Linked DNA regions of Homo sapiens. The protein of the gene in region 1 interacts with the protein of each later gene in a biochemical or structural test. Each region holds a gene or a part of one and is shown on either strand. Other genes may lie near its edges.

Evidence for each region. The genes of interacting proteins can lie anywhere in the genome.
Region 2: the proteins of SMOC1 (region 1) and TNC form a complex in vitro, tested with the Homo sapiens proteins (one study listed by BioGRID).

What each region holds. Positions count from the first base shown.
Region 1 is NC_000014.9:70,029,395-70,032,878, forward strand, and holds the end of SMOC1 (SPARC-related modular calcium-binding protein 1 isoform 1 precursor), read left to right. Parts: intron 1-847; coding exon 848-864; 3' UTR 865-2,972; downstream 2,973-3,484. UniProt on the Homo sapiens protein: Plays essential roles in both eye and limb development. Probable regulator of osteoblast differentiation.
Region 2 is NC_000009.12:115,115,146-115,122,806, forward strand, and holds the start of TNC (tenascin isoform 1 precursor), read right to left. Parts: upstream 3,013-7,661; 5' UTR 2,837-3,012; intron 1,379-2,836; exon of another isoform or gene 1-1,378. UniProt on the Homo sapiens protein: Extracellular matrix protein implicated in guidance of migrating neurons as well as axons during development, synaptic plasticity as well as neuronal regeneration. Promotes neurite outgrowth from cortical neurons grown on a monolayer of astrocytes.

The DNA of each region.
Region 1 (3,484 bases):
GCCCTTCTTAGTGGATAGCTGAGGGATTGCAAAGAGGTGCCCAGCAGGAGCCAGGCCTTATGGAAAAGGGACTTTGTGTGAAGGCGTTGGCCAGTAATAAGTTCACCTGAGCCATAGACACTCACAGAGCAAAAAGTAGGGCCAAACAACTTTTTGCTCTTTCCCAAGTCTGCTCTTTATTCTGAGGGTCAGAGAGGACAGAGACCCAGCATACGGAAGAAGGTGCCAGTTCTCTGGTCAAGGCCACTCAATGTCACATGTTCCTGGTTTGTTGCAGGTGGTAGCCTTGGCAGTTTCCCCCAGGCAAAATGAGCAGGCACAAACCCATTCAGTAAGTTGCCCCTTTCTGGGCTCCTCAGGGGTGAAGGGATTGGCCAGGTGACTTAAGCTCCCATTTTCAGGTTGTTTGCTGAGGACACGAGAGAACTATTGGGTCAGTGCCAATGGGATTCTGCCATCCCCACCTGTAAACAAACCCCTGTCGTTTCCACCCCAGCCCCAGGTTGAAAAGCTGGCATGTGAGAGTAGTGTGATCTGAACAGAGTGCACACCCTGCAACCCACACTTCCCTAGGCCAAGCCTCGTTCTCTCCAATGCCAGACTTATTTCAGTTGCAGTGGTGGTGCCTCATAGTGGCAAAGGACAGGCTGGTAAAACATGCTCATCTGCAAGTCCAGGCAACCTGTGCCCCACCTAGCCTCATAGAGGACAGCAGGTGGAAAAGGCTGCACTTGTGGGGAAATTGATGGACATAGCTGGATTTCTCACAAGCCCAACTCTAACTTCTTGCTTATATCTGCCCCCGACCTTTTTTTTTTTTTTTTTGCATTCTCCTTCCTTCTCTCAGTAGGACGCCTCGTCTAAGGAGCAGAAAACCCAAGGGCAGGTGGAGAGTCCAGGGAGGCAGGATGGATCACCAGACACCTAACCTTCAGCGTTGCCCATGGCCCTGCCACATCCCGTGTAACATAAGTGGTGCCCACCATGTTTGCACTTTTAATAACTCTTACTTGCGTGTTTTGTTTTTGGTTTCATTTTAAAACACCAATATCTAATACCACAGTGGGAAAAGGAAAGGGAAGAAAGACTTTATTCTCTCTCTTATTGTAAGTTTTTGGATCTGCTACTGACAACTTTTAGAGGGTTTTGGGGGGGTGGGGGAGGGTGTTGTTGGGGCTGAGAAGAAAGAGATTTATATGCTGTATATAAATATATATGTAAATTGTATAGTTCTTTTGTACAGGCATTGGCATTGCTGTTTGTTTATTTCTCTCCCTCTGCCTGCTGTGGGTGGTGGGCACTCTGGACACATAGTCCAGCTTTCTAAAATCCAGGACTCTATCCTGGGCCTACTAAACTTCTGTTTGGAGACTGACCCTTGTGTATAAAGACGGGAGTCCTGCAATTGTACTGCGGACTCCACGAGTTCTTTTCTGGTGGGAGGACTATATTGCCCCATGCCATTAGTTGTCAAAATTGATAAGTCACTTGGCTCTCGGCCTTGTCCAGGGAGGTTGGGCTAAGGAGAGATGGAAACTGCCCTGGGAGAGGAAGGGAGTCCAGATCCCATGAATAGCCCACACAGGTACCGGCTCTCAGAGGGTCCGTGCATTCCTGCTCTCCGGACCCCCAAAGGGCCCAGCATTGGTGGGTGCACCAGTATCTTAGTGACCCTCGGAGCAAATTATCCACAAAGGATTTGCATTACGTCACTCGAAACGTTTTCATCCATGCTTAGCATCTACTCTGTATAACGCATGAGAGGGGAGGCAAAGAAGAAAAAGACACACAGAAGGGCCTTTAAAAAAGTAGATATTTAATATCTAAGCAGGGGAGGGGACAGGACAGAAAGCCTGCACTGAGGGGTGCGGTGCCAACAGGGAAACTCTTCACCTCCCTGCAAACCTACCAGTGAGGCTCCCAGAGACGCAGCTGTCTCAGTGCCAGGGGCAGATTGGGTGTGACCTCTCCACTCCTCCATCTCCTGCTGTTGTCCTAGTGGCTATCACAGGCCTGGGTGGGTGGGTTGGGGGAGGTGTCAGTCACCTTGTTGGTAACACTAAAGTTGTTTTGTTGGTTTTTTAAAAACCCAATACTGAGGTTCTTCCTGTTCCCTCAAGTTTTCTTATGGGCTTCCAGGCTTTAAGCTAATTCCAGAAGTAAAACTGATCTTGGGTTTCCTATTCTGCCTCCCCTAGAAGGGCAGGGGTGATAACCCAGCTACAGGGAAATCCCGGCCCAGCTTTCCACAGGCATCACAGGCATCTTCCGCGGATTCTAGGGTGGGCTGCCCAGCCTTCTGGTCTGAGGCGCAGCTCCCTCTGCCCAGGTGCTGTGCCTATTCAAGTGGCCTTCAGGCAGAGCAGCAAGTGGCCCTTAGCGCCCCTTCCCATAAGCAGCTGTGGTGGCAGTGAGGGAGGTTGGGTAGCCCTGGACTGGTCCCCTCCTCAGATCACCCTTGCAAATCTGGCCTCATCTTGTATTCCAACCCGACATCCCTAAAAGTACCTCCACCCGTTCCGGGTCTGGAAGGCGTTGGCACCACAAGCACTGTCCCTGTGGGAGGAGCACAACCTTCTCGGGACAGGATCTGATGGGGTCTTGGGCTAAAGGAGGTCCCTGCTGTCCTGGAGAAAGTCCTAGAGGTTATCTCAGGAATGACTGGTGGCCCTGCCCCAACGTGGAAAGGTGGGAAGGAAGCCTTCTCCCATTAGCCCCAATGAGAGAACTCAACGTGCCGGAGCTGAGTGGGCCTTGCACGAGACACTGGCCCCACTTTCAGGCCTGGAGGAAGCATGCACACATGGAGACGGCGCCTGCCTGTAGATGTTTGGATCTTCGAGATCTCCCCAGGCATCTTGTCTCCCACAGGATCGTGTGTGTAGGTGGTGTTGTGTGGTTTTCCTTTGTGAAGGAGAGAGGGAAACTATTTGTAGCTTGTTTTATAAAAAATAAAAAATGGGTAAATCTTGGCGGCTGTTGCCTCTTTCTTTGGGTGGCTTCCTTTAATGAAAAGGCTTTATTTCCTAGAAAGCTTAGTTCGTTTCCCTGGCCTGGGTGCTCTCCACTTCCATCCAAGGACATCTGAGGTGCTGCCAATGATGAACCTAGCAGGGGACCCGGAAGTGGCCAGTGTGGTACTGCACCTAGAGAGGGGACTCCCTTGCTAAAGGTGTTTGTGCACTCTCTGTAATTCTTCCTCTTACCTCCACCCACATGTCTGCCCCACGGGATGCCCCTCCCTGACTGCCATTCCCTTCCTCTCACTGGAATGTAGGGAATGTTGCTGGCAGAGCTTTGGGGGCAGGGCTTGGGGAAGAGCCTATTCCATGGCTTCAGGCTGTTGAAAGTGGGTACATTGCCATCATCCAGATGACAAGACGCCAGGCTGAAATGTAGCCATAGGTGGGGAGCAGACCCCCAGTGGAGTTTTTCAGCCTGTACCCCAGTTTTGTGGGGTATCTATTCTGGCTGAGGCTGCAGG
Region 2 (7,661 bases), on another chromosome or scaffold:
TTAGCATTAGAAAGGGTAGGATTAAGGGGGATATGTTTTTCATTCTGTCAGCTTGAATTCTCTTTCCAAATTCCATTCTGGTTATATGATCAGGCTACTGCTGTATTTATGGGTGGCCACAGTCTGCCTGGAGGGGCATATTTAGTCAGAAAGGAAGTGTTTTCCTTCTAAAGGCAGGCAAGAAGCAGAGAAGCATTCAGAAGGAACACGGCAGAATGTACCTCTGACTTGGTGATCACGGGGACCTGGGTGTGAAACCTGGCTGTATCACTCTGAGTTCTAGGACCTTGGTAAAGTTATTCAGTCTCCCTGTTCTTGAAGCCATCTCTTTGTCCAACAAATATAGTCCATACCTCAGAGACATGCTGTGGATGATCCCACAAAAGCCTACAGTTTAGAGAGTAGGCTCATCATATATTTTGGCTATCATTGTCATTAGAATTAATTAAAATAGCCTTTGTTAAGTCTTTTATTTCTCATTCATATTCCTGTCTATTACACTATTTGTGGACTTGCTCTTACTTCTGCTACAGATGGTGACTCAGAGGGGCAAAAATCCTTGTTGAAGGGCAGAATGGCAACCAGAATGCACACAGCCTGGTTTCATGATTTGTAAATGTGCTTTTTGTCATTGAAGATTCTGTGGCAATGTCCCAGAGGCTAAGAGCAAAGGTGTAAGTTTTAGACCTTGTGACCCCACTTCAACCAAAGCAGCCCTGCATTTACCTGTCATATACTGGGGGTTTGCCCTAAATTCATGTAATGAATATTTTCATCATTAAAAATAAGTTTAAAAATCATGATCTTAGAATATTAATCTTGGACAAGTCCTTGTAAAATGATAAACAGAGAAACTAAGAAAAGTTTCCATTTATTGAACCCTTAATATGTGGAAGGTACTATGCCAAGTGTTTGCCATATATTACCTCATTTGAATGTTGCAAGAGCCCTGTGAGACATAGTTTGTCATCTCCATTATATGAATGACAAAGTTGAGGGCTGAAACGTTAGTCACTTCTTAGAGTGGGGAAGGAGGAGGTTAGTGTGGGATAAAATAGAGAAGCTAGGTTTTTAAAACAAAGCATAGAGGAAAAAAATATTTAATGACTGTAGAGCTTGGCAACATCCCTTTCAATCCTTGTCCAATTTACCCTGTTTGAGCAAACCAGAGAATACTCATATTGTGCACCTTTTTCTTCCCCACAAAGCAGTCACCTTCCTGAAATGCAAGGGCCAAAGCACGCTGACTTACATCTCCTGCAAATGACTTGTATGCGCACAAAGCCAGAAACTCTTCACTTGGTTGTCTAGGACTGAATAAATCTTCTTCAGTCCTGAATTGGGCTTGCCTGGCTGGGATGGATAGTAGTTTTCCTTTCTAAAACACATATGGGAAAGCTCTGTAAAAATGGGGGAAAAAGTCTACAAAAACATGAAAAAGAGGCATTCATTCTTCAAGTGGTGCTCCCTGTCCTGCCCTCCCTCCGGACAGAAAGCTTTTCCAAAGAGTTTCCAACAGCATCGTACTTCATAGCTGTCAGCTTTAGAATCTGCAGATGCCTAAACTCAAAACCTCCTGACATTCTGGAATCAAAATTTGACATTAACTTCCAGCCCCGGGCTACTACCTTTTCTCCAACCTGTGCCAACACAACCTCCTGCTTGTAAAATACAGCCAAGTCTCAGACCTGCCAGCCTAGTGAGACACCCTCAGATTGGGTGAGATAAAAAGCGGGGGCTGGGGGCGGGCTGAGGAACAACACACAAGAAACAATCCAAGACTGGCTCAATGCCTCTTTTAACTTCCAGAGTGATGGCAGTTTTTGGCAATGACAATGATTATCCAAACTTCCAGTTATTAAGCAGTCATTGCTGATCTTTCTATACCTCATTTTCTCCTCAAAACGACAGCAGACGCTATTGTCCCCATTTTAGAGATGTGAAAACTGAGGATTAAGGAAGTGATGTATCTTTCTCAGGGTCATATGTATGGTGGTGGGGAGAATACCAAACACCTCTGGCTTCAAACCTAAGCTCTTATTCCTCTTACAACACTGATGGGTGAGAAGAACCCCTGTGTTCTTTCCAAAGTACACCAGGGGCAGCAGGGTTCCCATACCTGGGGGATGTTGTTGCTCAGATCTTTCTGTGATGAGAGGTGAGGAGGAGGAGGTGATTCTAGAGACATGTGGGACGCTGCTGGCTCTAGGCACCCCAGTAAAGCTGTTCTCCACCACTCTCTAGCTGCCTGTCAGTTATTCATCTGGCCCAGGAGCCACCTCCTCTCTTCTGTCCCCCAGCTCTCATTTCCAGGGTGAATATTTTGAGGACCAAATGAGGGAATGGGTACAAAACTCTTTGTAAACTTTATGTAAGTGCTGTTTAGATATAAACTTTTATATTCTCCCTGCACTCCTCTATCAAACTCCCTCTAACCCATCCCAGGGGCAGGCTATGAGCAAAGTCTGCCTTAAAACTCTACTGCCCTAACCCTCAAAATAAAAGATATATACAGGTGAATCAGCCAGACTAGAAGTAGGAGAGCAGTTGAAGAGAAAATTTTTACTTTTCCTCTGCAGAACAGCAGAAGATAACAACTTTACGAAAAGTTCCTTCCAAGTCTGACTATTCATAAAGTTAAAACAAACAAAATTACAAGACCAGAAAAGTCAAGGTGCATCTGATATAACCAATACACACTCCTTTTTTTTCCAGCGGTGGAAAAAAAAACCCCATATGTTTTGTAATTATAATATAAAATCACAACTCATTTGGTACCAGGAATGCAATCCTTACATCATAAGGATCTCTAGTGATGAGGGCAAAACAGACTTACCTTTCCGATGGGCGAGAGACCTAGGTCCTTGGAAGAAGTACCTGGAGTGTGGAGCTGCGGCGGTTCCCACGTGCGCGTTCCCCCGAGTTCCCCAGCAGCGCTGCCTTTGTGCCCACGGAGGCGGGGGCGTGTATCTGCGCGCGGGAGAGGCGGGTGACAGTAGGCAGGCTGTGGCCGGTGCAGCCAACTTTGGCTGGCTTATATAGCGAGCTCCTTCCTCTGTAATGGGACGCCTCGCCTCCAGACATCCTTTCCCACTTTTTCAGTTGGCGAATTAAAGGAACAGCCCTCCCAGCGGAACAGGGTTAGCTCATGAAAGACGCACTCACTCCTGGCTCTCGGCCAGGGAAGGAACCCATTTGCATACAATTTATGGCGAAAGTAGGAATTCCCGCCTGCCCGCCCCCGACCCCGAGTAGCTGTTAGTGAAATGTGATTTTTGCTTTGCTCCCCACACGGGTTTTCTAATTGTGAGACGGATGCCTGGGGAGCAAGAGGGAGTAGGATCCGCAGCCCTGGCTCCCCTCTTGTACTTGGTCAAGCTGGAAATGGGACCAGGGCTCGCCTGGGCTCTGGGCAGCAGCTGCTCAGTGGCACCTCGGAGCGAGTACAGGGACTGAGCCCAGTTCCTGGAAAGAGGAGATAAAGCCCTTCAAAAGCCTGGGGGGTTTCAGGTTTCTCTGGGCCAGCGGAGAGATAACCCAGGATTAGGTCTCAGCAGGTGGGGATCGTGCGGGACGCTCACATCAGCCCTGCTTTTCTTGTGTGGGAGCCAGCCTTGCCCAGCTGCTGGGAGGCATCTTTGTTCCAGCCCCAGTGTCCTGCAGGGCAGTAGCTTTTTGACATTGTTCATGCCCTGTGCCTGGTGTGGTCTTCTCAGCTGGGTCTCCAGGGGGAAGGATTTCTGAGGTTTTCTCTTAGTGCTGAAAGGCGTCCCCCACAGCCCTTTCTTTAAAGAAAAGCAATAATTTAAAAAGGTAACAACCTAATCCTTGAGCCATAAGCTGCGCCTTTGCTTTCCAGCCTGCCGTGGATTTCCTCCAAGCTCTGAGTCATCCGTTCGTTTGGTGGTTAGCATGCATTGAGTATCCTCAGGGCATACAGGGGCATTTAAGGGAGTGGAGAAGTAGCACTTCACCCGTGCCTAGAGACTTCTGAGCCTGCCGCAGAGCATAGTAGTTTGTGACAGTGAAGTAAAATGAAGCATTAAATGTAATTCAAAACGCAACTACCATTGAGCCCTCCCTTATTAAGTCTATAATCAGGTGCTGTGCAGGGTACTTTATGAACACTATTTTTGTTCACTATTTTTATTATATCCTTGTAACCAGTAAGTAGGATAGACACAAGTGTCTCTTTTTTACACAAGAAAACTGACGTTTAGAGAAGTAATGAAACTTTACCAAGGGAATACACCTGGGAAGTGTTTATATTACAACACTGGGCTCCAGAGATCTATTACACGTTACTGTTTAGGAATAGGGTATGATGATATTTAAACAATGTTTTATGCTGTATTAGATTGTTAACACCATTTGTGTAGAAATCACAGCCATATTTGAATATGGAAAATATATTTATTTGCTCCATAAAGCTAATTAGGAGAGATCTTTGATTTTTAAAAATTAACTACTAATAATGGAGGTCTCAATTATCCACTTATTTTCAATATTAAATGATATCATCCCCACAGTTATTATTGTTGCTGTGGGCCTCAGTTTCCCCATCTGAAAAAAAAAGCAAGACACGATTAGGTCATCCTACGGTTGCTTTGGCTGTAGTATTTTAGGATTCTCTGCTAAAGTGACCCTCCCAGACAGCAAGAAAGCCCATAAATAGTCATGTCATAAAACCGCTCATTTGAACTTTTGATCCATTTTGGCTGATTCAAATGTTGGTTGTTTGGGAAGTTTTAAATTCTGTGCTTTAGCCAAAGGATATTTCAGTAGCATGAAGCTGTGTCTCAACCAGCAGTGAGTGGTTCCTACTGAGTTAATCTCTTGGGTTAGGGATTAAAATATTAGAATAGTGTACAATATATGTCATATGGTATATAAACTATATTTGTATAGAACATATAATCAATATATTTATAATTCTATGTGAGTTTTTAAATAAGACAAGAGCGCATGCTAGAAAACTAGATAGATATGGCTTTTTCGGGGAATGTCTCAAACTCGAACTCCTCTCCCCAGTTCTTTAGGATTCTACAATCGTTGATTAGTGTCTACCACAAGTGGTATGGTCAATCACAGGGAAACTAAGCCAAATATGACCAGGCTGGCCCTCAAAGCAGGAAAAGGCTAGCAGAGGTGACAAACAAGAATACTATTATGGGTTAAGTTAACAACTATCATATAAGTGTATTCTGATAACATAGAGAAGAGATGATTTATGCATTTTTAGGAGAGGCTACTTGTAAAAGGCATTTTCTCCAAAAAGCTATGTGGCATCTTAAGCTTTTTGGCATTTGAGTAAGGAGTGCCCAGACGAGGACGTGTTTTCCATCCCTGTACTGTTCGCAGCCTCTGTTTCTGGTAGATGGGTCCATATGCACCAGGTACTCTACAATACCCAAACTTTGTTCATGCTAGGATGATGCCCTAGGCTCCTCACCTCCATGCCCTCACATCTATTTATCATCCATTTCTGATCTGACTTCACTATGGAGCTTCCTAAATGGAAGAAATCCATCTAGGAAGAGATGTTTCTATGCACTATGGCATTTGTAACTCTATTAGGACATCCATTGCATCTACATGGTATAATTACACATGTGCATGTCTAGATTTTCCTCCTAGATGCTAGGCTTCCTGAGGCTGGTGATCACACTTGCTTTTTCTGTACCTGGCATAGAGCCTTGGGTATCATAGAAGCTCAGTAAATGTTTATAGAATGAATGAAGTAATGGAGGAACAAATAAATGTTTGACATGTTGTGCTTTATAATTAAATTCTTCCTTTTACAACCATAGAACCTGAAAAGGAAACTGGATTATTGTGTCCAATGCTTCCATCGCACAGATCAGAAAGTGGGGTGCTGAGAGGAAGAATGACTTGTCTGAAGCCACTATGCCTGCTTTCCAGGAAGAAAACTGTCACAATCAGAACTGAGCAACCAAGCCACACTAGACATTACAGCAGAGGAAGTTTATGGAAATGAAGAACCATTTTTCCTCCTGTTTGGCAGAGGCCATACCTCTTGGCATCTAATCCCTCATGGTTGCATCCTTCTGAGAAGCATAAGCACTTTTTTCCACTTGAGAGGGTAGAATGAATGCATGTAAACACCACCCCTGCACAGAGCTTCCTGCCAAAGACTGATTTTGTTGTTGCTTGTTTGCAGTTCTTATTCAGGAGTTGCTGGTGGAGGCTGTGGTTTAGAGACCAGAGGAATGTCATGGTTTGCCTCAGGTGAGATCATTCTCATTTCTTTAAAGGTCTGTTAAATGTAATACTTTTTCTTCCAGACAGAACAGACAATGAGTGGAATTTTGGCCAGGACTAGTGCTGAGGAAGCTGAGTGTCCACTTCCCCATGGAATCCCCTGCTTCCTACTCTGATTACATACTCCTTCACTGTTCCCAACCTTCCTCCTCCTCTTCCCGGGATTCATCTCATCTGGTGTGCTAACTCCAGTCCAAAAGTCTCATGTGACTCCATAATTACCAGAAATCTTTTCCAAAGCCGGGATGGATCTCTGATCCCACACAGTGGGCCAGTCATTTAATTAAATGCATTTTGTTAGAGTCAAGGTTTCCCAACTTGCTTGCAGATCATTGTTGAGTGGTCTTTTCCAACTCTTCTTGCTTTTCCTTCGACAACAAAGGACAAAATCAAGTTCAAAGACCATATGGAGTGTGTGGCAAGACATATGAGAGCTTCTCTGATGGATGGACTATGGCAATTTAGCTGCGCCATCAACCAAGAAGTCATGCCTGGTCAGCACAGCAGAGTGGAGAGCATTGGTTGAGTGTCTAAGTCTTGATGCTGCATCAACTCGCTGTGTGACTTTGGGAAAATCGCTTTCCCCGCTGACACACAGGGTCCTGGTTAGCAAGTGGGGAATTCCCAGGGATTATAGCAACTCAAAACTCTCAAGTAAAATCTTTAAAGAAATAATTTAGAAGTCTCCAAGCCTTTGCACATTCACTTCCCTAGGAAGAACCCTGTCTTATTGCCATGACAAATTCCTTTATTATTTTTTTCAAGAGTTCCTTCATAGTGCTTCTTCTAACAAAGTTTTATGACCCTCACATCCAGAGAGAAGGGCCTCTCCTTCATGCTCATCTACACCACCATTTTTTAACTTTTAGTATGTTGCACATTTTATTTCTCTTGCCTGTTTACCCTGCTAGATCATGGACACCTGAGGGTAGACACTGTGCCTTTCCATCTGTTTGTCAGCAGTTCTCTTTGTTGCCAGCATCTGTTGATGGCTGCTGCCTATGTCATGTTATTTGTTAATTATTTTGAATATCATTCCTACATATCATAGTGTTTAGAATAGCATACGACCTGTCACAGATTTTGGAGGTAAGCAATAAAGGCATTCTTGAAGTGACTTTTATGAAATGATTAGAGACCTTAATTGTTATCATCAATTTACTCATTCATTTGCCCAGCTGGTCTGTGAGGACTCCTTGAGGCCAAGGACTGTGCTTTTCACCTGTACAGACCCAAAGCACTTGGAGGTTGATTAATGTTCCTATGAAATGATTGACTGATCAACTAATTGGCTGCATAATGGAAAATATATGATATTAGCACACAGTCTTGGGTTCTATTTGGCCCAACTGCTTACAATGTGAATTACCTTGAGAAAA